Linked DNA regions of Homo sapiens. The protein of the gene in region 1 purifies or fractionates together with the protein of each later gene. This does not show direct contact. Each region holds a gene or a part of one and is shown in the gene's direction. Other genes may lie near its edges. The genes, in order: OGN, COL14A1, SORL1, DNAJC13, HSP90B1 and ATF1.

What was found.
Region 2: the proteins of OGN (region 1) and COL14A1 purify together in Homo sapiens (affinity purification with mass spectrometry, with the first as the bait; one large-scale study listed by BioGRID). This does not show direct contact.
Region 3: the proteins of OGN (region 1) and SORL1 purify together in Homo sapiens (affinity purification with mass spectrometry; one large-scale study listed by BioGRID and IntAct). This does not show direct contact.
Region 4: the proteins of OGN (region 1) and DNAJC13 purify together in Homo sapiens (affinity purification with mass spectrometry, with the first as the bait; one large-scale study listed by BioGRID). This does not show direct contact.
Region 5: the proteins of OGN (region 1) and HSP90B1 purify together in Homo sapiens (affinity purification with mass spectrometry; one large-scale study listed by BioGRID and IntAct). This does not show direct contact.
Region 6: the proteins of OGN (region 1) and ATF1 purify together in Homo sapiens (co-immunoprecipitation; one large-scale study listed by IntAct). This does not show direct contact.

Annotation. Positions count from the first base shown.
Region 1 is NC_000009.12:92,401,696-92,405,892, reverse strand, and holds the start of OGN (mimecan isoform 2 precursor), read left to right. Parts: upstream 1-1,397; intron 1,398-2,128; exon of another isoform or gene 2,129-2,410; 5' UTR 2,411-2,485; coding exon 2,486-2,659; intron 2,660-4,197. UniProt on the Homo sapiens protein: Induces bone formation in conjunction with TGF-beta-1 or TGF-beta-2.
Region 2 is NC_000008.11:120,130,511-120,136,034, forward strand, and holds part of COL14A1 (collagen alpha-1(XIV) chain isoform 1 precursor), read left to right. Parts: intron 1-5,524. UniProt on the Homo sapiens protein: Plays an adhesive role by integrating collagen bundles. It is probably associated with the surface of interstitial collagen fibrils via COL1.
Region 3 is NC_000011.10:121,605,506-121,611,029, forward strand, and holds part of SORL1 (sortilin-related receptor preproprotein), read left to right. Parts: coding exon 1-66; intron 67-1,339; coding exon 1,340-1,452; intron 1,453-1,680; coding exon 1,681-1,785; intron 1,786-2,598; coding exon 2,599-2,671; intron 2,672-5,524. UniProt on the Homo sapiens protein: Sorting receptor that directs several proteins to their correct location within the cell. Along with AP-1 complex, involved Golgi apparatus - endosome sorting.
Region 4 is NC_000003.12:132,500,152-132,505,675, forward strand, and holds part of DNAJC13 (dnaJ homolog subfamily C member 13), read left to right. Parts: intron 1-642; coding exon 643-762; intron 763-2,137; coding exon 2,138-2,317; intron 2,318-3,062; coding exon 3,063-3,230; intron 3,231-5,150; coding exon 5,151-5,264; intron 5,265-5,524.
Region 5 is NC_000012.12:103,936,910-103,940,409, forward strand, and holds part of HSP90B1 (endoplasmin precursor), read left to right. Parts: intron 1-785; coding exon 786-897; intron 898-1,430; coding exon 1,431-1,550; intron 1,551-2,599; coding exon 2,600-2,716; intron 2,717-3,500.
Region 6 is NC_000012.12:50,814,856-50,819,660, forward strand, and holds part of ATF1 (cyclic AMP-dependent transcription factor ATF-1), read left to right. Parts: exon of another isoform or gene 1-1,085; intron 1,086-4,779; coding exon 4,780-4,805.

The DNA of each region.
Region 1 (4,197 bases):
GTCCTGGCACAGAATTGGCGCTCAATAAACTTTTATTAAATGAGTGAATGCTAATAACATTGTATTCACTGGTCATAACTTTTCAAGGAAAGTTGTTCTTCACAAAATAATTTTCTGTAGTACAAAGCATCAAAGTGTACCATTAATGAAACTATGAATCTCTAAGATTCTCTAAATTTGGACATATGGTATCTATCCAGCTTACTTCTCAATATCTTGTTAACTTGCCACACAATACAAAACAAATCAATGTCTGTTGTTTCATTATTATATATTTCAAAGTATTTAAAAAAGTTTTACTGTATCCTTGAAGCCATAAAACCAACAATTTATATCAACTCAAGCCAGACAATATCACAATTAAATTTAAGATAATTCACATTCAAATAAAAACTTCAGTGCTCAAGTCTTAGTTTATTTAAGCTTTGATTTGAAAGGTTCTAAAACAATTTTGTCTAGAAAAGAAAACAAATTGTTATTCTTTCATTTTCTATTTTAATAAAATATATATCCATATTTGTTAAATTTTTAGCTTAAAGGAGAAAAGTTAATTTGATTGGTAAAAGCACCAAGGAGGAATTTTTTAAAAGTGACTCTTTAAAAAAATCTTCAAAGTTGCTTGTATGGTATCTACAATGCCACTTTAATTTTTAAAAGCCAATTTCAATATTAAAGTAATTTTATAAAGTTTCCTTCATTCAGCAAACAAAAGTATCTTTTACTATCAACCTCAAAAACTATAAATCAAATTTACTTTTAAAAAGCTAATTTTTATGCATCAGTTTTTCTTATATGTAACTAAAATAAAGGGGAGAAAAAATCCAAATGACAAAACTATCAAATAATTTGTGCTAAAACTAATTTTTACACTGGAAAAATATATTACACTGGCTATATATTAATTATGGTATTAGGGCAATATTTTTAATCCTCATAAAATTAACAACATGGACTATGTTGTCATTTGGTGTCCTATTTCATTCAAAAAGCAGATTGTTTGATCTCCTGGGAAATCACCAAAATGAAAAGGATGACTTTAAAACTATATCATTTTTCATAAACTAATATTCACCAAAACATGAATGTTTATTACACAATAATAAAATCACACAAGTTTATAGTCAAATTAGTTGAAGCAGACTGAGTGCAGCAGTTACAACAAATAACTTAAGCACAGTTCTCTAGTACAACACACTGCATTTCACCCTAGAGAAAGAATGCTGGCAAAGATCTCTACCACATGGAAACTGTTCTTAAAGCTGCTGGGCCCTGAAATTTTACTCAGCAGTTTGAAATCAAGACATAGCTTTTCTCATTCACCCTCCCACTTGGGGCTAATGCACAGACATGAACATCTATTGAGGAAAACCACAAAAAACTTCAAAACAGCTACAACGGTAGGCTTACTTTTCATATATTATTTTAAATATTGTTTGTTAAAGTGCGACTGACTCATCTAATAGTCTTAATAAATGTAAAGGCCATCTCTGGTTTAAGTTTCAGTTACCTCAATTAATTTTTAAGAAGTACTTATGTATATCATCGCATAAATTTAACATCCACGCAGGCAAGAATAGGGTGCTGCAGAAGTCACAAATCCATTATCTTCTTCATTTTCAACCTCTGGATTTTTGACAAACTGGCATCTATAATGCAGCATCAGCAACTCTTGAGTGATTCTGTTTGAAGTTACTTAAGAAAAAGTCTGAAATGTGTACCCACCAGAGAAAATCCATTGATGAGCCTAAAGGAATCCTTTCTATTACATTCCTCAAAGTTCTTTGATTAAAGTTCGGTATTTCCTCTAGCCTGCAATACTATTCTTTCAGTTTTCTTAGCTTAAATTAAAAATACAATACTATTAACTAAAAATTATGATCACCTATTAAAATTACAAAACTAAGAAAATTAAAAACGTATGGCTTTTCCTATATTCTGTACCACCTAAAGGTGTTAATGACTACTTTTCATAATGTTAAATTTAAGTTTTAAAACTTTTCTTGGAACTTGTTTCTGTTCATACCAATATAAATCAAGAGTTCTTATAAAGTAGCTAAGTGGAAATATGATATTTTTAACTCACATGAGACAGGATCTTGGGACTTTATTTTAACTATTTATACTACAGGTATCCTAAGAATATTTCAATTAAATATTAGTATGTCTGCTGAAGGCACTTAATTATTAAGAAACTTAAAATTATCAATCTTTCTTGAATTTCTGATAGAGAAGTAAAACTATTTTCCAAAACTATTTTTCAGAATGTTCACTGATACATAAAAACTGCTAGCATCTAATTAAAGATCACTAAGGGTTAAATACTGTTCTCTGGCCCTTACTGCGCACACCCTGCCAAAACATCCTCTAAGCTTTTAAATATTGCTTCGATGGTCTGAATTTTTATTTCCAGGGAAAAAGAGAGTTTTGTCCCACAGTCAGCAGGCCACTAGTTTATTAACTTCCAGTCACCTTGATTTTTGCTAAAATGAAGACTCTGCAGTCTACACTTCTCCTGTTACTGCTTGTGCCTCTGATAAAGCCAGCACCACCAACCCAGCAGGACTCACGCATTATCTATGATTATGGAACAGATAATTTTGAAGAATCCATATTTAGCCAAGATTATGAGGATAAATACCTGGATGGAAAAAATATTAAGGTACTTTATTTCTATTCTAAATTTAGCTTCTAAAATACTGCCCATTTAAATGCATGTTTTTGCTTTTCCTGAATGTGTCTGATAAGGTAAGGGGAAGGGAAAATCACTTTAAATGATTCAAACGAATTCATAATAATTGTCCCTAAGATTGTATTTTTAGAGTATGTATGCTTTCCAAATTAATAAATGGTATCTATGGTAACCAAACAGTATCTATAGTAACCAAAAAATAAAACTTAAAGAAAACTAGACTTTAAGATGATCCCTCACCAGTTGCAATTTATATATTAAGTAATGTTACACAATGCCCTATACTTGCAATGTTGTGTTGCCTCAAAAATAAATTAGCGGAAATGTGTATTTGGAGAAATAAAGATGAATTATCAGCTTAAGGTTATTATTATAGAAAACAATTTGAAGAAAATACATAGAAGAGTACTGGTTATTTTGATATCAATAGCATTCCACAATAATTTATATATGCCATCTACATACAGTACCAAAAACTGAAAACCTAGTCAATATAGGACTTTCTTTTTAAATCAATTTTAACAGTTTAGACCCTCTATCAATTGGTACCAAGTAACTGTAACTGTCTTTGAGTTAACACTGCAAGGGTGACGTTATACCACATCATTCATTCCCCACCTTTATGGGCAAACTAATTACTTGTGGTTTTCTTGGCACACAGAAATGAATGCTGGGTAAGGAAAAAGTTAATACAGCACTTAAGTATCTGTTGCCCACTATGTATGACACATACACATACACACTGGAAAATGAGAAATTCAGCCAAATATATAACAATACTGATTGTTTCAGAAGTTCTTCTCCACTATAAATTGGAGGATAAAGACTTATAAGATTGACCAGTTATAATTGCTACTTTCTCTTTTCTTTTTTGCAGGGGTACACAATGAGCAAATGTTAACACCACAGTTTCTTTCTTTCAGTTAATGCTTTTAATATGATAGCATTATTTTTGCCCATCACTAAGACACAAAGGATAGGTATTACTAATTATAGCTTCAAGTTAAAGAAAAAAAAGTCCCATCATAACATAGGCTATTGGCTCACTTGGATGATTTGAATCTATTAAGATTCCCTGATCCCTAAAGAGTTTAGAGATTATTTTTCTCTCTGCTTCTTCTCTTTACAGGGCTTTAGAAGTTTCTCTATCTTAATATAAATGCAGGGTCTAAGATATTTGTGGAGTGGAGTAGAATTCAACAGGACTTGATGTGCAAACACAGAGTAGAGGGAGGAAGTTCAACCACCACACAGATGGGAGAATGAAGGTGAAGGGCAGAGTCAGGAGTCAAGACCGAGACTAAAATGGAACATGCTTACAAAGGACAGAAAGAATAGGACACCACATAATACACTGTAATCTAATGGCAGAAAACGTACTCTCCAAGAACAGGAAAGACAGGATCTAAATTGTATCTACTCCAATTTCCCCAGAATTAATGGCCTACCCCAGTGGCCCAAGCAGGGTAGGTAAGGTAAGCTGGAATAAAAGGGATCCAAGAGCCAGG
Region 2 (5,524 bases), on another chromosome or scaffold:
CATTTGATATTTCTCTCTTAAACAAAAATCACTGTGCATTTTATTCAGCTTTTTGTCTTTTAAAAAGCAAAATAAAGAAAGCCTACGTGTACAAGGAAAGAAATGTAAAATGGAAACATCACTAACTTGGAGAAAATTAAAAGAATTTAATGGTAATTAAAATAAAAATATGCCAATAAATTAGAAAGCCTGGATGAAATGGATTCTTTTTTTTCCAACTTTTATTTTAAGTTTGGGGATACAAGAACAGGTTTATGACATAGGTATATGTGTCATGCTGAAGTTTAGGGTATGAATGATCCCATCACCCAGGTAGTGAGCATAGTACCCAAAAGGTAGTTCTTCAACCCTCACCCCCTTTTTTTTCCTTCCCTCGCTATTAGTCCCCACTGTCTGTTTTCTCATCTTTATGTCCATGTGTACTGTTTAGCTCCTACTTATAAGTGAGAATATGTGGTACTTGGTTTTCTGTTCCTCTGTTAATTCACTTAGGATAATGGCCTCCAGCTGCATCCATGTTGCCGCAAAGGACATGATTTTGTTCTTTGTTATGGCTGTGTAGTATTCCATGGTGTATATGTACCACATTTTCTTTATCCAGTCCACCATTGATGAGCATCTAGGTTGATTTCACATCTTTGTTATTGTGAAGAGTGCTGTGATGAACATAGGAGTGCATGTGTCTTTTTGGTAGAATTATTTATATTCCTTTGCGTATATATCCATTAGTGGGATTACTGAGTTGAACGGTAGTTTTTTAAGTTCTTTGTGAAATCTCCAAACTGCTTTCCACAGTGGCTGAACCAATTTACATTCCTACCAACAGTGTATAAGCATTTCCTTTTCTCTGCAAATCTGTTTTTTTTTTTTTGACTTTTTAATGATAGCCATTCTGATTGGTGTGAGATAGTATCTCAATGTGATTTTGATTTGCATCTTTCTGATGATTAGCAATGTGGAGCATTTTTTCATGTTTGTTGGCTGCTTGTATGTCTTCTTTTGAGAAATATCCGCTCATGCCCTTTGCCTACATTTTTAATAGGGTTATTTGTTTTTTGCTTGTTGAATAATTTAAGTTCATTATAGATTCTGGATATCAGACCTTTGTTGGGTCCATACTTTGCAAATACTTTCTCCTATTCTGTAGATTGTCTATTTACTCTCTTGATAGTTTCTTTTGCTATTCAGAAGCTCTTTAGTTTAATTAGATCCCACTTGTCAATTTTTGTTTCTGTTGCAGTTGATTTGAGGACTTAGTCATAGATTCACTGCCAAAGCCTGTGTCTGGAATGGTATTTGCTAGGTTTTCTTCCTTTTTTCTTCCTTTCTTTTTTTTTTTTTTTTTTTTTTTTTTGAGACAGAGTCTTGCTCTGTCACCAAGGCTGGAGTGCAGTGGCGCTATCTCGGCTCACTGCAACCTCTGCCTCCTGGGTTCAGGCGATTCTCCTGCCCCAGCCTCTCTAGTAGTTGGGATTACAGGCATATGCCCCACCATGCCCAGATAATTTTTTATATTTTTAGTAGAGATGAGGTTTCACTGTGTTAGCCAGGATGGTCTTGATCTCCTGACCTCATGATCCACCCGCTTTGGCCTCCCAAAGTGCTGGGATTACAGGCATGAGCCACTGTGCCCAGCCGATATTTGCTAGGTTTTCTTCTAGGATTTTTTTATAATGTTAGATCTTACATTTAAGCCTTTAATCTATTTTGAGTTAATTTTCATATATGGTGAAAGGTAGGAGTCCCATTTCATTCTTCTGCATACAGCTAGCCAGCTATTCCAACACCATTTATTGAAGAGGTAGTCCTTTCCCCATTGCTTGTTTTTGTTGACATTGTTAAAGATCAGGTGGTTGTAGGTGTGTGACTTTATTTCTGTGTTTTCTAACCTGTTCCGTTTTCTGTGTGTTTGTTTTTGTACCAGTACCATGCTTTTTTGGTTACTGTAGCCTTGTAGTAGAGTTTGAAGTTGGATAATTTGATGCCTTCAATTTTGTTCTTTTTGCTTAGAATTGCTTTGGCTATTGAGGCTCTTTTTTGGTTTTGTTTAGAATTTTTTTTTTTTCTATTTCTGTGAAAAATGATGTAGGTAGTTTGATAGCAATAACATTGAACCTGGATATTGTTTTGGGTAACGTTCTTTTTTTTCTCTTTGAAACAGAGTCTTGTTCTGTCACCCAGGCTGTGTTTTGGGCAGTATTCTTATTTTAATGATATGAAATGAGTTATTTTTAAACAAAGTACAAATTACTAAAACTGATTTTTTATTATACAGGAATTATGAATAAAACATTAGACACAAACATGTTGAAAAAGTTGTTAAAAAGTAACCTCTCCAAGAGTACTGAACTCTCCCCATGGTTTTGCAATTGAATGCTAATGAAAATGTAAAAAAATAAAAATACCGTGCTATTATAACTGTTCCGGCCGGGCGCGGTGGCTCACGCCTGTAATCCCAGCACTTTGGGAGGCCGAGACGGGCGGATCACGAGGTCAGGAGATCGAGACCATCCTGGCTAACACGGTGAAACCCCGTCTCTACTAAAAATACAAAAATTAGCCAGGCATGGTGGCGCGTGCCTGTAGTCCCAGCTACACAGGAGGCTGAGGCAGGAGAATGGCGTGAACCCGGGAGGCGGAGCTTGCAGTGAGTTGAGATCGCGCCACTGCACTCCAGCCTGGGCGACAGAGCGAAACTCCGTCTCAAACAAAAAAAAAATAAAAAAAAAAAAAATAACTGTTCCAAAGTACAGTATAGAGAAAGAAGAAAAAATTCTGTTATTTTTTATAAAACTGGAAAAAATAATACTGATATCAAAACTTGACACAGCATAATAAAAAAGAAAAGCTACAGATTAATTTCACTAATATTGATGTACTTATTGATATGAATAGCATATTAGTAAATAGAACCCAAAAGAATAATTCACAATGATCAAGTTGGGCTCAAATTTTACAGGTAAGTTTAGTATTAGAAAATGGATTAATATAATTGTCATGTTAAAAAGTTAAGAGAAAAAAGTTAGAGGATATTCTTCATAACTACTACAATAATTTAACATTTTATTTCAGATTAATAGCTCAATAAAGTTTACACAGATGGAAATTTACTAAACATGATACATTTATATCAGTATATTTGTGTTTGTCTTCTCTAACAGTCTGTCTAGCCATGTGTCTTCAAAATCAAAGTCATGCCAAAGAAGCATTGCTATTAAAAATAAGAACAAGACAAAGTTTCCAGGATAAATATTCTGGAGATAGTAGCCAAAGTAATAAGAAAAGGGAAAGAAATGAAAAACATAAAATTTGGAAGGTAAGAAGAAAGATATCATCTACAGAAAAAATTAAGGAAATCAATTTTACAAACTTTAAGACTTTGAAAAAATGTTAAACTATTCAAGGTAGGTTACAAAATTAATATAAAAATAAAATTGCTTTACTATAATTAATAAACAACTTGTTTAAAAGTGATTAAGAAAAATCCATTAACAGGAAATAAAACATATATGTATATAATATGTAGAAATAAACTCAAAATGTCAAATTTATATAACTCTTTAAAGTGCTCATGAAGAAATGAAGATGACTGGCTTGAATAAACAAAGAATATATTCTTTTTTGATGTAAAGATGGACTATTGTATAAAAAAGGTCGATCTACCTAAATTGGTCTACTAATTTAACATGATCCCAATTTTGAGGAGTTTTTGGTACCTAGTCAAAAATAATCAGAAAGAAAACTTAAAAGAAAATATTAAAACATATTATAAAGTTTTGATATTTACAATTACTTAATAGTCACACATAAATAGAAAATCGATAGATTCGAAAATAAAATATAGCATTGTTAACCTGTGATCAAAAGGTAAATTATTCTATAAGTGGTATTGGACTAATTGGATAGACATGGAGAATAAAAGTTAAAACTTTTTCATTTACATCAAAATAAGTTTTAGATGATCAAAGATTTCAATTTAAAAATTGAAAATGTAAGAATACTAAAAGAAAATATAGGAAAATGCTATAATTCCAAAGGAGAAAGAGACTTATATGCATGTCATAAACCATAGGAGATAAAAAAGAAAAAAAATAAATATTGGGCAACGTGTTTTATCATATATGATGGAAAAAGAGCCACATATTAAATACAAAAATTTCTCATAAAAAGATGAACACTCCTAGCTGAGTGTGGTGGCTCACGCTTGTAATCCCAGCACTTTGGGAGGCCGAGGAAGTCAGATCACTTGAGGTCAGGAGTTCGAGACCAGCCTGGCCAACATGGCGAAACCCTGTCTCTACTAAAAATACAAAAAACAGTTGGGTATGGTGGTGCATGCCTGTAATCCCAGCTATTTGGGAGGCTGAGGCATGAGAATTGCTTGAACCTGGGAGGTGGAAATTGCAGCGAGCCAAGATTGCACCACTGCACTCCAGCCTGGGTGACAGAGTAAGTGAGATTCCATCACAAAAAACAAACAAACAAACAAAAAACAGATGAACAATCCTATAGAAAAATGACCAAGGATATGCTAGAGAGTTCACCGAACAAAAGACAGCTTAAGTAAATGAAAGATGTGCAGTCATACTTTTAGCCATGGTGATGTTATATGTTGAACTACAATTTTTTCATACATGAAAGAATTTGTAAATATCAGAGCCAGCAAGTTTATGGAAAAATAGACACATATACTTTTGGTGGTATATAAACTGGCATAATCTCTCTGGAGACCAATTTGGCAATATGCATTAATACTTTTTTTTTTCTTTTTGAGACAGTGTCTCCCTCTGTTGTCCAGGCTGGAGTGCAGTGGCACAATCTTGGCTCACTGAAACCTCCACCTTCCAGGTTCAACTAATTCTCCCACCTCAGCTTCCTGAATAGCTGGGATTACAGAAGCGCACCACCACAGCCTGTCTAATTTTTGTATTTTTAGTAGAGATGGGGTGTCACCATATTGGTCAGGCTGGTCTCGAACTCCCAACCTCAGGTGATCTGCCTGTCTTGGCCTCCCAAAGTGCTGGATTACAGGTGTGAGCCCTGTGCCCAACCCATTAATACTTTTTAAAAGGAATAAGCATACTTTATAACCAGCAGTTTAACTTTTAGCAAACTGTCTTAGAGAATATTTGTCCATGACTTTTTTGAGATTTTGATTAAAATTGCTTTGAATCTATAGATTATCTTAAAGACATTCTAACAGAGTACTTTTTTTTTTTTAACCCATGAACATGGTGCACTGCTCTATTTAGGCTTTCTTTCATTTCTGTCAGTAATACACTTTTATATTTTGGTATTCTGAAGAGTATAGAGGCCTTGCATGTCATATTAATTTCTAACTATTTTATGTTTTTGATGTCATTGTAAATAAATTTAAAATTTTTTTCTTTTTATTTATTTTCTGCTATTATATAAGAATACAATTGATTTTTTGCTGACTGATCTTGTCTGTCAGTCTTTCTAAATTATTAGTTCAAGTAGGGTTTTGTTTTTGGTAGATTCCTTAGAATTTTCTGGTAAACAA
Region 3 (5,524 bases), on another chromosome or scaffold:
AGGTTCAGTGTCTCAGCAAGGCACACAACACCAATGACTTTGTGACCCTGAGGACCCCAGAGGGATGTAAGTGTTTCAGTTAATTTTTATGGCATGGGTAAGACCTCAGGTCGGGGTTTGTGAGGGTCTTTCTGAGTATTCTCAGGAATGTGGGAACATATGTGTGCCTCACATGTACAGAAGTATGGTGGCTAAGCTTTATAGTCTTGCCAGAGTTGTCAAACATCTGTTCTTCTTACTGCATCAGAGACTGTTCTTGTACCTTAAGTTAATTTAAGATTCTCTCCACCATTGCCCTCTTGCATTTTTTGTCTAGTTTCTACCTCTACGTTCCTCCTCTAGATATTTCCTAGTACTTGGTACTTAGGAGGAGGTCATCGTCATTAAAATATGAGGCATATCAGCAATTTTGTGGCTAAGTTTTTTTCTTTTTGGAGACAAGGTCTCACTCTGACACCCACACTGGAGTGCAGTGGAGGCGCAATCACTGCTCACCACCTCAGTCTTCCCAGGCTCAGGTGGTCCTCCCGCCTCAGCCTCTCGCATAGCTGAGACTATAGGTGTGTGCCACCATGCTCAGCTAGCTTTTTGTATTTTTGTACAGAAAGGGTTTTGCCGTGTTACCTAGGCTGGTCTTGAGCTACTGAGCTCAAGCAATCCACCTACTTCAGCCTCCCAAAATGTTGGGATTACAGGTGTGAGCCACTGCACCTGGCTTTGTGGCTAAGTTTTTAAGAAATTTACCAAATTTATGTGTCTAAGAGAGTTCCTCGCCTCCTCCCTACTTCAAAGTAGTTGACATGAGCAACTGTCTGCTTGAATGTCATCTTTTTTCATTGCCTAAAGTATCCTGAATATGCTAGCGCTAAACTCATTAAGGAGCCTGCTTTGAAGATGATCAAATTCATTTGGATATAGAAATTCTGTGATGTTACAAAATTAGTCTTATTTTTTGGTAGTCATGCCCACAGTACAGTTTTTGTTGTACAAGAAGCAGAGGCAGCAGGTGCTGTCATTGACAATTAAGATCTCAGCATGGAAGTCTCAGGGTCAGTGGTGACTCAGCCTGCCCAAGTGATTCTATCCTGCAGCCCTTATGAGCCACAAATTTACCACACACTCAACTGAGCCATGATGTGATGTGTGGACGGCACACCTTGCTTTTTGGAAGAAGAGGAAAAGTGTCTTTTCAATGTGACGACCAAGCTAGCAGCCTTTCTAGTGGATAGTCTCAATGCCGGCTGTGGAGTCGTTCTTGTCCTTGTTCTAAGCCCAGGAAAATTCCTCTGGTTGGCTGCTATGCAGATGGGTTTTAACCTTGAGTTGACTCTTTTTCTAGTGCCAGATGCCCCTCGAAATCTCCAGCTGTCACTCCCCAGGGAAGCAGAAGGTGTGATTGTAGGCCACTGGGCTCCTCCCATCCACACCCATGGCCTCATCCGTGAGTACATTGTAAGTACCTTCCATGAGTTGGCTGTATGTGTGTTGGGGGTGCTAGGAGATTTCTGGGTATTCTGTATGACGAGGGGGTTGATTTGGTTTAGCTTTGTAGGTGATGACCCATCCGTCAGAACATTTTGCTCCTCACCATCTTTTCTCTCCTCCAGCCTCCTTGCAAGATATTAGGATGCCCTGGACCTTTGGTTCCCTTTACTCACATTTTTTTTCTTCTCCCTTTAGGTAGAATACAGCAGGAGTGGTTCCAAGATGTGGGCCTCCCAGAGGGCTGCTAGTAACTTTACAGAAATCAAGAACTTATTGGTCAACACTCTATACACCGTCAGAGTGAGTGTCGTCATCCATTCCAGCCATCCATGCAGTCTTAGAACTGAGCGAAATTGCTGCTGTTTTGTGAGAACTCTCTACTCACCTTTGTGAGATGCATATTAGTAATCTGCAAAATACCCAACTTCTTGCCCTGGGACGGGGGAGCTCAGAGTTTCTTTCAGTCTCTTAAATGGACACCACAAAGAGCTTGACATCAGAGTTTCTGTAGATAACCGGGCGTTTATGGGAATGCCGCTTTCCCTGCTTTTAACTCCGGTATTCTGCTAGCTTTCCAGCTCCTATACTTTTGCAGTCAGCTCTTTCCTGCTTATCTTTAGCTGCAGGATGATGCAGAGCTATGATAAGTAGTCTTTCTAAACTGATTTTATGAGGTTCTTATGAAATATATTTTTAGTATTTTTAGCAGAAAGAGATAGATTTTGTGAACAACATGTTTGCTGAGACCATTAAGTGTGCACATTCATGACTCTCACACTGATAATTTTGTCAGTACCCTTTTTGTATATGTGTGTATTTATGAACACACCCCCCCATACACCTGCCCTTTAGAAGAACCTTGATATTTGTGGATCAATAGAAATTTTCTGATCTCAGGACTGTCATAATGCCCTTTACCCAAGCTCCTTCCCTTGGCTTTTTTGCCCTCTTATTTCAGATGCTGGGGCCTCTGAATATTCTGGATCACTCTGTATAAAATTTTTCCAGCCTCACTGCCAAAATCTCACCCCTTTAGCTCATTCAGTATTCTTACTGTATGGTGTATGGTGTATTGCCTTTATTTCATATTAATTCACCCTCTGATTTGAAAAGGTGGCTGCGGTGACTAGTCGTGGAATAGGAAACTGGAGCGATTCTAAATCCATTACCACCATAAAAGGAAAAGGTAAATGATCCCAGCATTTGCAGATTTAGAGAAAATATTATACAAACCCTTTCAAATGACTTTCAGTATGACCGGAAAATGGAGAAACGTAGTTTAGAAAAACATCACACAACTTTCTTCTCCCCAACACACGCACATTTTTGGGTGTCTCTGTAGTGCTTTAGATAGAGTCTTTTTGGGGTGACTGAGTGTCTTTTTCCTCCTAGTATTGAGCATTTCTTCTAATGCAGACATACAAAGGGATTTCCAAAGGCCATCATGCGCAGCCCTTTGTGAGTAGTCAAAATATCTAAAATAGAAGGAGTCCTTCCTTCTCACCAAAGCTGAAGATGATTTTGTGCATGTTCACTTACGGGGTTTTAAAGAAAGCACCATGCTGACTCTTGTTATTCTCCCAGTGGCACTGGCAAACTGTGTGTAGGTGGTTTTTTATCTTGTACTAGAGCTGATATTAGTAATAACTGATGGCTTGCCAAGGGCAGGACACTCTAGAGTGTTCACTGCTTTGCGTACATCAGCTCATCTAATTGAACAGTCAGAACAACTACAAGAAAGGATAAGGAACTGGAATGAGGTTATGTCACTTGTCCCAGGCCACACAATCAGTAAGTGACAGAGCTGGCCCTGGAACCTGATCTGCCTGACTCCAAAGCCTGTGCTCTTAACCACTGTGCTCCACGCTTCTCTCTGGGCTGAGACACATGCGGCCTACTGGACCGCCCTGCTTGCCGGGGGTGGCGGGCTCAGCATCTTGCACGAGTGCCTCATGAGGGCAGAGATCTGGTCTGTTTTTCTCTACTCTATCACGGGCATCTAGTAGAGACTAAGGAAATAATTGATGATTGAGTGAATCGAAGCAGTTAAATGAAGGGTTCTGGCATACTTTGGGAGATGGACTACAACTCATTTTCCAGAGTGGTTTTCCTGACCTTAGCCTTGACACTGGGGACTTGCATTTCTGGACTTCCAGGTATTAAAACCAGATGGACACTGTGGCATGCAATAGGACTGGAAGATTTTACTTTAACCTAAGCCTGTGAGGAATAGGCTCTGGGTCATGGAGAGTCACTATCTAGTCCCCTCTAAAATCTGGAGCCTTTGAGATCAGGGCCCAAGGCGGCCAAACGTAGTGCCACCAGATGGTCTTTGGAGCTGAATGCTTGCAGGTATTAGAGAAAGCCTGCTGAATTCACACTCTCCTAGAATTTTTATTGTTGTATCTCTTCTCTCTACAAAGTCTGTTTCAAAACACTGACCACACATACCAAGAAGGGATGTTGGAAGAGCAACCAAATACATGTACCTTGAATTCCGAAGGCACAAGTCACAACTGCATTTGAAAATCTCAGTGGATGGTTGGTTCTCTTTAACTTCTTTTCTGTGATTTTGATGAATCTCAGCTGCTTGCATATATTTGGGCTAGGATTTGTACAGAAGGCAGCTGTGTGCCACATCCAAAAAGTGTTTGTTGTAAAATATCTGTGACATAGTATCATAATAACGTTTTAAGATAAAGGACAAAGACAGCAGAGGCATCAGCCAGACGCGCCAGGTTAATTGGTGAATGTAGTGGATTAGTAATGACAATGAGAAAAGCCACCATTCCCTGAGCACTTCTTATACACTAAGCACCATGCTATTGTTGCTCGTGAATGGATCCCTTATTAATCCTTATGAATCCTATGAGATAAGTATCCTTATCCTCATTGTGTAGCTGAGGAAATGGGTTTGGAGTGGATTGTGACTTGTCCCTGGTTGCCATGATTATAATTCAAGTCAGCTTTACCATATGCAGCACTCGCACTGTTTTGCTCTGTGTTGGCCGCCTGAAGCTTCCAATATCCTTTCTTCTTCCGGTTATTGCATTTTCCTGAAGCCTAGTTTTATTACATGATTGATCATCTGGACAGACCTCTTCAGACTTTGACACATCTCTTTTGCCACCAAATCTTATCTGCTCCTTTGAGTCTCTCTTGCCCAGTCTATAGAAGGGGCATATGTGTGGAGAGTCTAATATGCAAGTTGTTGTTTAAATAATATTTTCTGATAATATTGATCCATTGAGCTCTTTTAGATCATGCTGGGCCAAGCACTGTCAGCCATCTGGTGGGAAGACCTTCCAGATGACAAGCATGGCGCTCATTGGTTGAACTGAGAGGGGTCTTTTCCTTGGCCACTTCTCCTTGCCCCCTCGACTCTTAGCTTGAGCTCCAGTCTTTTTGAGAGCACCAGTGGTTTCTAGTTGTTTAGTTGGCCATATGTGACGCTATATTGGAAAGGAAGAGAAAGAGAGTATCAGTTGAGTGCTAGGCATCACACATACATTATTTTAGTTAACCTTCCCAGCTCTGTGAAATGCAGATAACATCTCTAGGCTCCAGGAAGATCAGTAACTTGCCTAGGTTACACAGATGCCAGAACAGGAATTCGAACTCAAGTTTGCCAGCTTCCAGAGGCCACATTCTTTCCATTTTGCCACACGCACGTTTACCATTTACGATTTACTCCATTGTCAGCCTTCCGAAAGGACTTGAGATTGGTGGGACTTTGTTAGTGCCAATCAAGATGCCACTCGCAGTGAATGATCCCTGTTCCTTTAAGAACCAGGCTGAAGCTGGGCTGTTTTGGGACCTTTACAAAATGGAACTTTTCTGCCTGACCTAATTGCCAGGATAGCCGACTGAGCCAAGATAGTTTTGTGTTCACCAAGCAACTGTGGACCAACCTTAGCTTCAGGAAAACAGTGGTAAAAAAAGATCGATGAGGAACACTGCCAAAGAAATACCCTTTCTTCCCCGACTGAAAGATGGCTTTGTCCGTTGAGTTGAAAACTATTAAGTCCTGCCTTCCTCA
Region 4 (5,524 bases), on another chromosome or scaffold:
ATCCCTCACTCTCCTATCTCTAGTATTTTAATTGGCTTAACATTTAAGGTTGTAAGATAGGAAATTCATCAGGAGTTCATTAAGAGCTTTGTAGAGCGTGTCTTTCTATTTGACCTTTTGCTTATGCCAGCAAAATTCAGAATATAAAACGAGTACTGGCTGTTGAGTTCCATCCTCTATTTTGAAGTCCGTTGTGTAAACAGAATTGTGATATTCTGCTATGTTAATAAACTATACAAAATTACCTTAATCCAGAGGCCAGCAAACTTCTAAAATAAAGGTCCAGGGAGTAAATATATGAGTCTTTCAGGCTTCATACAGTCTCTGTTACATTTTCTTTTGTGACTTTTTTACAGCCCTTTAAAAATCTAAAAACCATTCTTAGCTCTTTGGCAGTACAAAGACCATGGTCAGTTTGGCCCATGGGTTGTAGTAGCTGTGGTTTGCCAACTACCCCAGCATTTATAGGAAATCTTAATGAGAAAGACTAGTGATCTAGTAAAGACATTCTGTTTAATTTTGGAACATTGTATATACCATTAAGCATTATTCACAAATTTCTGCTGGTTTGATTTCTATGTGTTAAATAAGGAATGCCTATGTGACTCTACTGGTTTTTTTGCTCTGTTGTGTTGTCTGCAGGTGTGTGGATACATAAGTAAATGCTACAGTGTGGCTGCTCAGTTTGAGGAATGCCGAGAGAAGATCACGGAAATGCCTAGCATCATCAAGGATCTCTGTCGGGTACTATATTTTGGCAAGGTAGGGTTAATCTTTAATGCTTTCTAGATACAGACAGCAAAGTGTCTTTTTGTCAACTAGCCAGTTCCTAATGTATAAGCACATTGTTTTCCCAAAGTTATTTGTAAGTAAAATTATTTGGATTTCTAAAAGCATTTTTCACAGAAGCCTTGCTGTAAATGGAGGCTTTGCTTCTAGGCTGGCCTACAAAGAAAAAGACTAAAGTGATACATCTAAAGGGAAGTGGGTTCCATCTGAACATTAGAATGAGTGGCAGGGAGAAAAGAGAAGCCTGTAATAAATAAGTCTTTTAAAAGCAAAAGGCCAGCCCGGTGTGGTGGCTCACGTCTGTAATCCTAGCACTTTGGCAAGCCGAGGTTGGCAGATCACTTGAGGTCAGGAGTTCAAGACCAGCCTGGCCAACACTGCAGAACCCTGTCTACAAAAAAATACAAAAATTAGCTGGGTATGATGGCATGCGCCTGTAATCCTAGGTATTCGGGAGGCTGAGTATTTGGCTGAAGAACAAGCAACTCCAGAAAATTCAACCATAAGGAAAAGTTTAGCTGGCATGCTGACACCCTATGTTTCTGTGGCTAGTGTGACTGAGATATATGCTTCAGAGGTAGCCTGTGCCACTACACTCCAGACTGGGCAAGAGAGTGAGACTCTGTCTCAAAAAAAAAAAAGAAAAAAAAACAGGGCCATGTAAAACCTGAAAACTAGAGAGTTCGGCACTGCTTGGTGGGAAAGGCTTTAGAGATCTGAGAACTTACTATTTCCTCCCAATCCAGACCTGCTGAGGAAGGTTGACTGTGGGTAGATGAGATAGATGACTGGGAGGGAGAGAGAAATGTCTTAAATAACTGGGCAGAGTGAGAATTGTCTTGAATAAAACAGGATCGAGATGCTGATCTAGTACTAAAGTATCAAGAAGTGAGGGAATTGATGAAAATATCTCCTCTACTATATCTACTTAATGTCCTTAGAAGTATTTGATTACAGAATAAAAAACTGACATAAATAAATCTTTTAACAACTGCACAAAATATGTCGTTACATTTAAGATCACTAGCGTGTAAGTTGCTATTGATGCCATGTCACTATTTTTAAAAATTAAAAATACAAGAAGTGAAACAGGAAACTATTCCCAAGTCTTCTGACATTAGCCTTAAAGGTAGTAATTCTGGTATCTCGTCATGAGGTCACTTTTAATTTTAGGCTTTAAAGGATGTAGGATTCAGATTTAAATTGGAATTGAAAATGTAAGAAGAGGTAAACATTTTACAAAATAACGTGGTTGGCTTGACATACATGCACAACCAGTTCCTCTTGGGAGCTTTTTTTTTTTTTTTTAACTCTGTAACAACTAATGCTCTCATTTTTATTCTCTCAGAGTATTCCCCGCGTAGCTGCTCTTGGGGTAGAATGTGTCAGTTCTTTTGCTGTGGATTTCTGGCTACAGACACACCTATTTCAGGCTGGAATTTTGTGGTATCTCCTTGGTTTTCTGTTTAATTATGACTACACACTAGAAGAGAGTGGCATTCAGAAAAGTGAAGAAACAAACCAGCAGGTAACTTTAACATTGCTTTAATATTGAATTTGAACCCAAACCTTAGGTTGGTGTTAAACTAATCCAAACCAAAGCTGCTATCCAGAGTCCCCAGAGATAAATTGTTTTTCAGGAAAATTAGGTTTTTTGCTTTTTAAACCTAATCACTTACTTACAAAACTTTTAGTTGTAATTGCTTATGCTTAAAGGATTCCAGGCAAGGGAATTTGCAATAGCATATACTGGACATAATTTAATAATTTCTTAATTACTCAGAGTCAACTTTATGATGGCAAAATTATGGTTGTGTAACACAGGACAATATAATGTTACCATCAGGCAGTTGAGGCTAGCTCCCCTAAACACTTGAGTACTTGTCTGATTTTTATAGATATTTTTCTGTCTCTTCTATGTGCTCTCATTTATTGCTCATATTGTAAATGTGTGCTTCTAGCAGGCAGGGCTGCCTACCTATCCCCTACTCCCCACATTACCACCAAATGTGCTTCTTCCAGTTGTCTGTGAGATATACTGCATTGGGTATAAGTTAGTACATAGATTCTCCTGGTCCTTCTTATAAATAAAAAACAAGCCCCAACACATAAACTTTCTGATGTTTACCTCAGTGGTAGGTACTCTTGTACCCTTTTGTTGGTTGACTTTTTACTCCTTAAATATGTTCCATATAGTGTGATTCTGTAAAATTATAGTATTACCTATGTAAGATAACAGATCTACTTTAACAACTTAATTTTTTTTATAACAGGAGGTAGCAAACAGCCTTGCCAAACTGAGTGTCCATGCTCTGAGTCGCCTTGGAGGGTATTTGGCTGAAGAACAAGCAACTCCAGAAAATCCAACCATAAGGAAAAGCTTAGCTGGCATGCTGACACCCTATGTTGCTAGAAAACTTGCTGTGGCTAGTGTGACTGAGGTATGTGCTTCACAGGTAGCCTGGGTTTTAATCAATAGTGCAAGATCCTTTAAGCAGTAAAGTAGTACAATAATATTGATCTAGGGAACCTAAAAATTAAGAACGTTCACATGTTTGTTCTCTCAAGCAAGAAATTCACTTTATAATGGATTGATGCTAATGATGTCAGTTCTACAAGTCCAGTTTTTGCAAGGGCAAATTAACTTTGTTTCTCAGCTGTGGAGCCTATCATAATTCTTACCAACCTTGAGTCACAAAGGGACAGGACGAGAGAGTGAAGTTGGAATGGTGTTTCACAATGGCAGACTACTGGGAGACAGGAGACCCAGAGTCTATTTCAAGCTATTTATTGTAAGCCATAGCTTATTCAGACACAGGGTTAAAATCCTGAAAGTAAATACATACATGCACATATACATGTATATGTATCTATGTACATACATAGATGCATTACAAAAATCAGTATGACATGATAGATCTCCCAACCTCTTTAACTTCTTTTGCAAGGATTATTGAGAAATAATCTGAGAATGTAGCACTAAAGAATTTGATAAACTATAGAAATCAGTTAAACAGGTTACTATTATCCTTTAATTATAAAAAAAAAAAGAGTACTAAAAGACATTAAAATAAATGAAGACACTAGATCCTATTTTTGGTATAACAAAATAAATGGATTGATAGATTTGTACCCATATGTTAACTGTAATTATTCCTGAATGGCATAATTATAGGCAGTTTTTCTTTTGTTTTCGCTAAGGATGAACTGTGACTTTTGTAAGTGAAAAAATCCTCAGGTTTCCAAAGTATTTTTACAACTTTTAAACAGGTTATTTGTTTTTAATCCAATGTGATTGAGTCCAATTTTCAGTGCTTGCCATGCTTTTCAGTTCCCATGTGTGAAAGGCAGGAGCTCTAGATGCTACTGGTTTTTTTTTTTTTTTTTAATTTTGTTTTTGTTTTTACTATTTTTCCTAAAACACTAGACGACCAGGGACCACTCCTGATGTTAGTTATTTTCCTGGACTTTTTGCTCACCAATGTGATACATTTTGCTGACTGAAAGCATTCTCTTCAGAAATGCCAACAAGTTTGGGATTAACCTTTATAGCCACCCCCACTAAAAATTTTTTATAGCATTTCAAAATTAAATGTTGGCATGAGCTCCAACTGGATTCAATAAAATGCTTAACTAGAAGTTAGCCTTTTGAAAACAAGGCTTGCATGTCTTTGTATAAGATGGAGGTCATAGTCCTCTGTTTTCCTATTAGCAGTAGACCTCTGTAAAAATAAAAGATTTTTATTCAGACATTTAAGGAATTGTGAAATATCTGTGTTTACATTTAAAATTGAGGAGAGCTCAACAATAGGAAAGCACACCAGATGCCTAAGCAGTCATAATCTATGCCTGCAGAAGGACTACACAGCCTTCAATATCAGGGTGTGGTCAGGAAAATCTGACTTTCTCCCCATAAATTTTATTTTCCTTCATACAGGTATGCTTCTTAAAGACTTAGGTTTTGTTTTCAAATACATGTACATAAAGGTATTATGTTGTGATTCTTTTCAAGCTTATAGTCACAGTGTGTTTATTAAGTACTTTCAAAATATTGAATTTCACCATGGCACAGCAGATTTTGAGAATGTTGAAGTCAGACTCAATTTCAAATCCTAGTTTCACCAGTTACCAGTTGTAAGATCTGGGACAAATAATTTAATGATTTGCAGTCTTAGTTTTTCTCAGCTGTAAAATGGATTATATCAATAAACTTGTTAGAATTATTGAGATACTTATTATTGAGGTCCATTATACTATAGGCAACTATTATAGTGTTTGGCCTATAATAGACATTTTTAATAAGTGATAATGTCAATAAGTTTTTTCACTAAATGTTATAAAACGGTAATATTGTCTCCTAGATTTTGAAGATGCTTAACAGCAACACAGAAAGTCCATATTTGATATGGAACAATTCTACAAGAGCAGAATTACTTGAATTTCTTGAATCCCAACAAGAAAACATGATTAAAAAAGTATGTTATTGTTTTATAAATTTCTTGGGTAATTTATTCTGATGGAATCTCTGGAAGTACAGCAGTATTGATTAGAACAGAAATCCACTACTTCTCACTTTAGTGTCAGTCAGTATGGCTTTCTGCCACCTAATATTTGGCCCATTTAAGAAGAGCATTGTGTTGTATGTAGTAATACATTAGGAATTTTTATTGTTGTTACCACTTATATACAGCTGTCTTCTATTTTAACCAGTTTTTGAACCCAGAAACCTTATTTT
Region 5 (3,500 bases), on another chromosome or scaffold:
AAACTAATGAGCCTTTTGAGACAGGGAGGGAACCATAGATAGACCATTTCCCATACTTAATTGGGAACACAAGTATCAAGATATGGACTACCTACTGTGCTTAAGAGTAGGTTCTAGGCCGGGCACAGTGGCTCACACCTGTAATCCCCGCACTGCCCGGTAGAATTTTATATAATAGTAGAAATGTTCTATATCTGCACTTTTCCATTTTGGCGATCACCAGCCACATGTGACTGTTGAGTACTTGGAATGTGGCAGCATAACTGGAACTGAACTGTACATTTTATTTAAATAAGTCACATGTGCCCAGTGGCTGCCATTTTGGATAGTGCAGATATAAATATAAACCAGATTAATTTTCTAGCTTTTTTAAGGAAAATGTTTTCATTAATTAGGAATAGTTATCTACAATAATCATTAGGTTTCTGGAATAACAGTAAGAGCTATGAGAGTGCATGATTCCATTTCTCTCCAGAATATTTCAGTGCTTTCTCACCTTGAAAAATGAAAACAATCTATTCAGACGGTTGGGAATATTTTAATTTTCTACTTAAAACTAAGGTTATTCTCCACTTGAGGTAATGTAGAGGAGATTCTTCTCTTTACTGTATCTACATGTGTTACATTTTAGCTCACAAACCCTTGTTGGTGATGGAGAGTTAACATGAATAATTAGGACATCTTGGATTATACTGAACTGCTGGCTATTACCATGGTATTTAAATGAATTTATAATCAGATCTTCTAAATGTTAGGTGTCTCTAAACATCGAATTTTTCTTGCAGCCTTGTCTTAAAAGAAGAAGCATCTGATTACCTTGAATTGGATACAATTAAAAATCTCGTCAAAAAATATTCACAGTTCATAAACTTTCCTATTTATGTATGGAGCAGCAAGGTAAATCTATATTGATTAAAAACTTATATGTATTACCTTGGCACGTATTTAAATATTCAACACTAAAAGAATGAAGGCAGGCCGGCGCGGTGGCTCATGCTTGTAATCCCCGCACTTTGGGAGGCCGAGACAGGTGGATCACCTGAGGTCAGGAGTTCGAGACCAGCCTGGCCAACATGGCGAAACCCTGTCTCTACTAAAAATACAAAAATGTTAGCTGGGTGTGTGGTAGCACACGCCTGTAATCCCAGCTACTCGGGAGGCTGAAGCAGGAGAATTGCTTGAACCCGGGAGACGGAGGTTGCAGTGAGCCAAGATCGCCCCACTGCACTCCAGCCTAGGTGACAAAGCAAGACTCTGTCTCAAAAAAAAAAAAAAAGAATGAAGGCAAAATGTGGTCTATTAGTTAAGGATACTCTCAGGGTTTTCTTACAAAAACCTATTTTTTGACCTGTAATGTTATATCATATTCTGTAGACAAAATCAGAATTGTTAAACAAATGAGTTTAACCATAATTCTCTTATTTCAACAGACTGAAACTGTTGAGGAGCCCATGGAGGAAGAAGAAGCAGCCAAAGAAGAGAAAGAAGAATCTGATGATGAAGCTGCAGTAGAGGAAGAAGAAGAAGAAAAGAAACCAAAGACTAAAAAAGTAAGTCTGGTTTATCTCCCTGCATAAGATATTGTTTAACATGTATAGGCAAAACCAGGAAAACCTAAGTATGCACTGGCTGATTTGAAGTCAGCTTCAGTTCAGGTGCTAAGTCCATGGAGCCAGCTTTTAAAATAAGGCCTTTGTTTGTATGTTGAATACATTGTCCTGTAGAAAGTTTTAAGTATCAAACCCAGGTCATTTTTATGAAGAGTTTTCTAACTTTTATATATTGCCTAGGACTGGTGGCTTATATGTTTGGAATTTTAAAATCTTAAAAAGCCTTCTGAGTCCTCTTTTGTCTTTTTATCATGCAGAGATTAACCATAAAAATGGTTCTCTGGCTTGCTTAGGTAGCAGACTAAGAAGTATTGATCATGGTGGTTGAGAAATATTTTTGTAAAATGTTGGATTTCTTTAAGTCATGAAATGGGAATATATAATATGTATTTCCTTCTAACCTCAAAACAAATATTTTCAAGAAACATTTTTGCTAGTTAAAAAATAACAATGAAGAAAAACTTAAGTGGCTTTTCATCAGTTAACAATTGTCTTTTTGAATTAAATATTGAGAAAAATACTTTGCTTTTGATACAGTTGGCAGAAACCTTACTAGATAACAGGTATCCTTTGGTGCCCTTTTTTTTTTTTTCTTTAATTTGGAGACAGAGTCTCTGCCACCCAGGCTGGAGTGTGGTAGCACGATCATAGCTCCCTTCATCCTTGAACTCCTAGGCTTAAGCAGTCCTTTCACCTCAGCCTCCCAAGTAGCTAGGACCACAGACACACGCCACCATGACTGGCTAAGTTTTAAAAATTTTTTGTATAGTTGGAGGTCTTGCTATGTTGCCTGGACTGGTCTTGAACTCCTAGGCTCAAACAGTTCTCCTACCCTAACCTCCCAAAGTGCTAGGATTACAGGCGTGAGCCACCACACCAGTCCTCTGGGTCTTTACATAGTCTTTTGAAATCTACTGAAGCCATGGTTACTGCTAGGATAACCTTGGTGAGTGCTGAGAGAGACTAATCAAATACTATAATAACTTCAGGTTGAAAAAACTGTCTGGGACTGGGAACTTATGAATGATATCAAACCAATATGGCAGAGACCATCAAAAGAAGTAGAAGAAGATGAATACAAAGCTTTCTACAAATCATTTTCAAAGGTAAATATTTATAATTCCCTAGTTTCTGGTTATTAATGAATAGACAAAATATCACCCTCTTAGTTTAATTGTATATGGTATGTGACCATGAATATGAGATGGTCCATTCCCATTTTTTCCCAGTGAGAAAATTCAAAAAAAGACCTTTAGGCCAACTATAATATGTCTACTTCTGGTTTATTGACCTAGTCACAATTAAAATCACATTTATGAACCTTTGAGATTGACACCTCAGTAGAGATGGTCTTTGAGAGTAATTGGTTTCCAGAACACACCATTTTTACTTAAGTTGAATTATTATACTCATCACTACTTCAAAATTGCAGCAGTTATTAAAATTAGTCCTAGCTCTTAGTGAATAGTGAAACTACAAAATCAAGAATGTTTGAAACAGTTTTATGGCTGTTTAAACACAATTGGTTTCCTTTTTATTCCTGTGTATTTTGTAATATGTGATTTTTTTAAAAAAATTATTTTGAGAAGGCATCTGTAGCCTTCACCAGCTTGCCAAGGGTTTTGTGTGACAAAAAAAGATTAAGAACCACCTACATAGGTAGATGTGTGATTTCCACCACAAAACCCGTAAAACATGAAATCATGTTGTTAAGTGGCTTTTAATATAATCTTTAAAGAGCTTGCTTATGACATCAAACACTTATTGTGAGATCCTATGCCTGGGAATAATTACTAAATTTATGTTTCCTTGCCTGTTTTTTTTTTTCTTCTTCTTTTATTGATCCCTTCTTGTAACTCTTAAGGATGCAAAACTAGCATTGATAAAGTT
Region 6 (4,805 bases), on another chromosome or scaffold:
AGGCATGGTGGCTCACGCCTGTAATCCCAGCTGAGGCGGGCAGATCACGAGGTCAGGAGATCGAGACCATCCTGGCTAACGTGGTGAAACTCCATCTCTACTGAAAATACAAAAAAATTAGCTGGGCGTGGTGGCGGGCGCCTGTAGTCCCAGCTACCCGGGAGGCTGAGGCAGGAGAATGGCATGAATCTGGGAGCCGAAGCTTGCAGTAAGCTGAGATTGCGCCACTGCACTCCAGCCTGGGCAACAGAGTGAGACTCTGTCTCAAAAAAAAAAATTTTTTTAACTGTAAAACAGCCTCAAGGCAGCCCCTACAGGAGGTATTCCAGAAGAAGGCATTGTTATCATAGGAGATAACAGCTCCCTGTGTGTTATTGCCCCTAAAGACCTTCCAGTGGGATAAGGTATGGAGGTGGAAGACAATGATATTGATGATCCTGACCCTAGGCTAGTTAGCCTAGGCTAATGTTGGTGTTGGTGTCTTAATTTTTAACAAAAAAGTTCAAAAAGTAGAAAAGTTATATTTGGTTTTTGTGATTTTTTTTTTTAAGACAAGGTCTCACTGTGTCACCCACACTGGAGTGCAGTGGCACAATCTTGGCTTACTGCAACCTCTGCCTCCAGGGCTCAAGTGATCCTCCCAGCTCGGCCTCCCAAGTAGCTGAGACTACAGATGTATACCACCACACCCAGCTAATTTTTTTTTTTTTTCTTGTAGAGGTGGGGTTTTGCCATGTTGCTTAGGCTGGTCTCAGACCTGGGCTCAAGTGATCCATCCACCTGCCTCAGCCTCCCAAAGTGCTGGGATTACAGGCATGAACCACTGCACCCAGCCCCCAAAAATTTAAAATTAGCTAGTACAACCACTATGAAAACCAGTATGGAGACTTCTCAAAAAACGAAAAATAGAAATCTACCCAAAGGAAAAGAAATCAATATATCAGAGGGATACCTGTACTCATAAGTTTACTTGCAGCACTATTCACGCACAATAGCTAATAGAATCAACTATGTGTCCATCAGTGGATAAATGGATAAGAAAGAATTAAATCATGTCATTTGCAGCAACATGGATGGAATTGAAGGTCAGTATCTTAAGTGAAATAAGCCAGGCACAAAAAGAAAAAATATCACATTCTCACTTATATGTGGGAGCTAAAATATTTGAACACATGGAAGTAGAGAGTGGAAAAATAGGGCTGGGCGTGGTGGCTTATGCCTGTAATCCCAGCACTTTGGGAGGCCGAGGCGGGAGGATCACTTGAGCCTAGGAGTTCAATGCAAGCCTGGGCAACATACCCATTGCTACAAAAGATAAAAAATTAGCCAGGCATGGTGGCGTGTGCCTAAAATCCCAGCTACTCGGGAGGCTGAGGTGGGAGGATTGCTTGAGCCCAGGGGGTTGAGGCAGCATGATCGCACCACTGCACTTCAGCCTGGGCAACAGAGCAAGACCCTATCTCAAGAAAAAAGAGAGAATGGAAAAATAGGTAACAGAGACTGGGAACGGTGAGGGGCAAGGAGGAGGATGAAGAGAGTTAAAGGGTACAAACCCATACACAGTAAGATAAAAGGAATAAATTCAGTGTTTCATAGCAGAGTAGGATGACCACCCTTAACAAAAACCTATTAATACTCAGGTGATGGACACCCTGAATCCCCTGACTTGATCGCTACACATTATATACATGTAACAGATTTTCTCATGTGCTCCATAAATATGCACAGAAACATTTTAATGGAAAAAACCATACAGGCCAGGCGTGGTGGCTCACACGTGTAATCCCAGCATTTTCGGAGGCCAAGGCAGGAGGATCACTTGAGCCCAGGAGTTTGAGACCAGCCTGGGCAATATAGGGAGACCCCATCTCTAAAAAAAATTTAAAACATTAGCTAGATGTGGTAGAGGCAGGAGAATCACTTGAACCTGGAGGCAGAGGTTGCAGTGAGCCATGATCACGCCATTGTACTTCAGCCTGGGCAACAGAGCAAGACTCTTGTCTCAAAAATAAAACAAACAAAAAAAAACACACAAGTAGTTAATAATCATATAAAAGACTACTCAGCCTTATTAGTAATCAAAGAAATACACATTAATGCTACACATTTAGATACCCTTTATACCCACCCAATTGGCAAAAATTTTAAAGTCTAACCAAGAGTTGGCAAGGATTTGGAACAATGGTCAGGAATTCATAGATACTACTATAGGAGTGTAAATTGATGCAGCCATTTTGGAAATTAGGCCTTATCTTGTACAGTTGACGTGGGTATACTCTGTGACCCAGCTGTTTTAGTCTGTGTGACTGAGAGGAACTTGGAGGAAGTATGTATAAGAATTTTCATAGCAGCAAAAAATCAGGAAACAACCTCAAGATTCATTGATAACAGAATAGGTACATATTGAGCCTAAACATAAAAATGGGGGGAAAAAAGAATAGGTACATAAATTGTGACTGTATTTATAGAATGGAATGTTTATTTGTAATGACTGAATGAATAATCATTTCAACATGAATAAATCTTAGAAAAATTGAATGAAAAAACAAGTTGCAACAGAATACACAAAGTATGATATTTTATAATTTTAGAAAATAAATGATAGCAGTTTTAGGGTCATATACGTATATACTACAACTATAAAAATAAGAAATGAGATGTCACGTAGCAAAAATTATAAAGTGGTAATACTGTCTGTCATTGGGCATATAAGGAAAAGGGTACCTCACATACATTACTGAGGGAAGTACGGAGTTTTATGGTATCTACTTGCCCCAACATTTCTACTTGTATGTGACAAAAGATACCATAAAGAAACTTAAAAATAAGTCTGTTAACTGGGAAAAATATTTGCAACTTTTATATAAAGAGAAAGAATTACGAGATGTATAGGTTATATAAAGATTTATTTCTGTAAATAAGAGACCTAACAGAAGGAAACCGGTCTGTGAAAGATGGCCTTGTAAACATGAAATTATTCCAAACTTTGTGCATAATGAGGGAAATGTTAAAGCAGTGAGGTTCGCTTTTTGTCAGCCGCTAGACTGACAACCATTTTAAAATGTTCATAACAGGCACTCTCATGTACTGCCCCTGGGAATGTAAATGGTACAAATACTCTGGAGGACATTCTGGCATTTTTTCCCTTTTTTCTTTCTGGTTTGACTCTGGGATTTTTTTCCTTCCTTTTTTCCCCCCTTATTTCTCTGTACTTCAATGAATATAAATTGGCACTATCTCTTGACTTTAAGTGAATATAGCTTGTGATCCTTCAAGAAATACATGTGTAGAAATACACGTAAAGAATGGAGGCTGAGTGGGTGGCTCATGCCCATAATCCCGACACCGTGACCAGGAGTGAGACCAGCCTAGGCAACATACTGAGACCTCATCTCTACAAAAATAAAATTAGCTGGTGTGGTGGTGTACACCTGTAGTCCCAGCTACTTGAGAGGCTGAAGTGGGGATATCTTGAGTCCAGGAGGTCAAGGTTGCAATGAGCTGTGATTGTGCCACTGCACTCAGCCTGGTTGACAGAGTGAGACCCTGTCTCAAAACAAAAGAAGAAAAAAGAAAAAGAATGTTTACTGGAAACCACTTAAAACAAACAAACAAACAGAGCTTAAAGGTAAAAATAAAGTCTTTTTGTGAGGGGAAAGATTTTGTACAGTCCTTTTAAAGATGTGTACTAAAAAGCAAGTTGCAAATAGTATCTACATATATAGCATAAAAATCTTAAAATAGTACTGTTTCTTTCTTTCTTTCTTTTTCTGAGACAGAGTCTTGCTCTGTTGCCCAGGGTGGAGTGCAGTGGCGCGATCTTGGCTCACTGCAACCTCCACCTCCCAGCTTCAAGTGATCCTCCTGGGTCAGACTCCCAAGTAGCTGGGATTACAGGCATGTGCCACCACAGCTAATTTTTGTATTTTTAGTAGAGATGAGGTTTTGCCATGTTGGCCAGGCTGGTCTCGAACTCCTGACCTCAGGTGATCTGCCCGCCTTGGCCTCTTAAAGTGCTGGGATTACAGGCATGAGCCACCATGCCTGGCCAATACTTCCGATTTCTATATGTATATAAACTTACATATGACTTCACAGAAATGTTTTAAGAGGACATGCACAGAACTGAGTATTTGCTCAAGCATTGTTTGTAATTTGAACTTAAATAAAAGAAGTCATGTGTCAGAAGTTAACCAGAGGACCCATAATTTCACTCTTTGGTATTTATTCAAGAGAAATGAAACCTTTCTACAAAAAGACTGGCACAAAAACATGCCTATGCAGCTAACCCTAGAAACATCGCAAGAGACTGGATACACAAATGGTGGTTATATTCATACAGTGAACTATGTCCAGCAGTGTGAAGGAACAAACCCCCATGCAGCAACATGGATGAACCTCAGATGGGCTGAGTGAAGGGACACCAGAGTACATAGTGTATGACACTCTTACATGAGGTTCTAGAATAGGAAAAAAACTAATCTCTGGTGATAAAAATCAAAACGATAGTTGCTTGGAAGGGGGCTGACCAGGAAGGGGCATGAGGGAACTTTCTGGGACAGTGGGAATGTTCTGTTGTCTTGACAGAGGTGTGGGTTATACAGGTATACACAATTGCCAAAACTGACTGAATTCTACACTTAAGATCTATGTATTCTCTGTGTGTAGATGATACTTTAAAGAGAAAAAAAGGTGACCACGGAAAATTACTGAAGAACATTTACCATTTAAAGAATGTGAAGTTTTTTCTAACATTGTTTTTTTAATGCTCATATTTAGAGAAGCTGCTCGAGAATGTCGCAGAA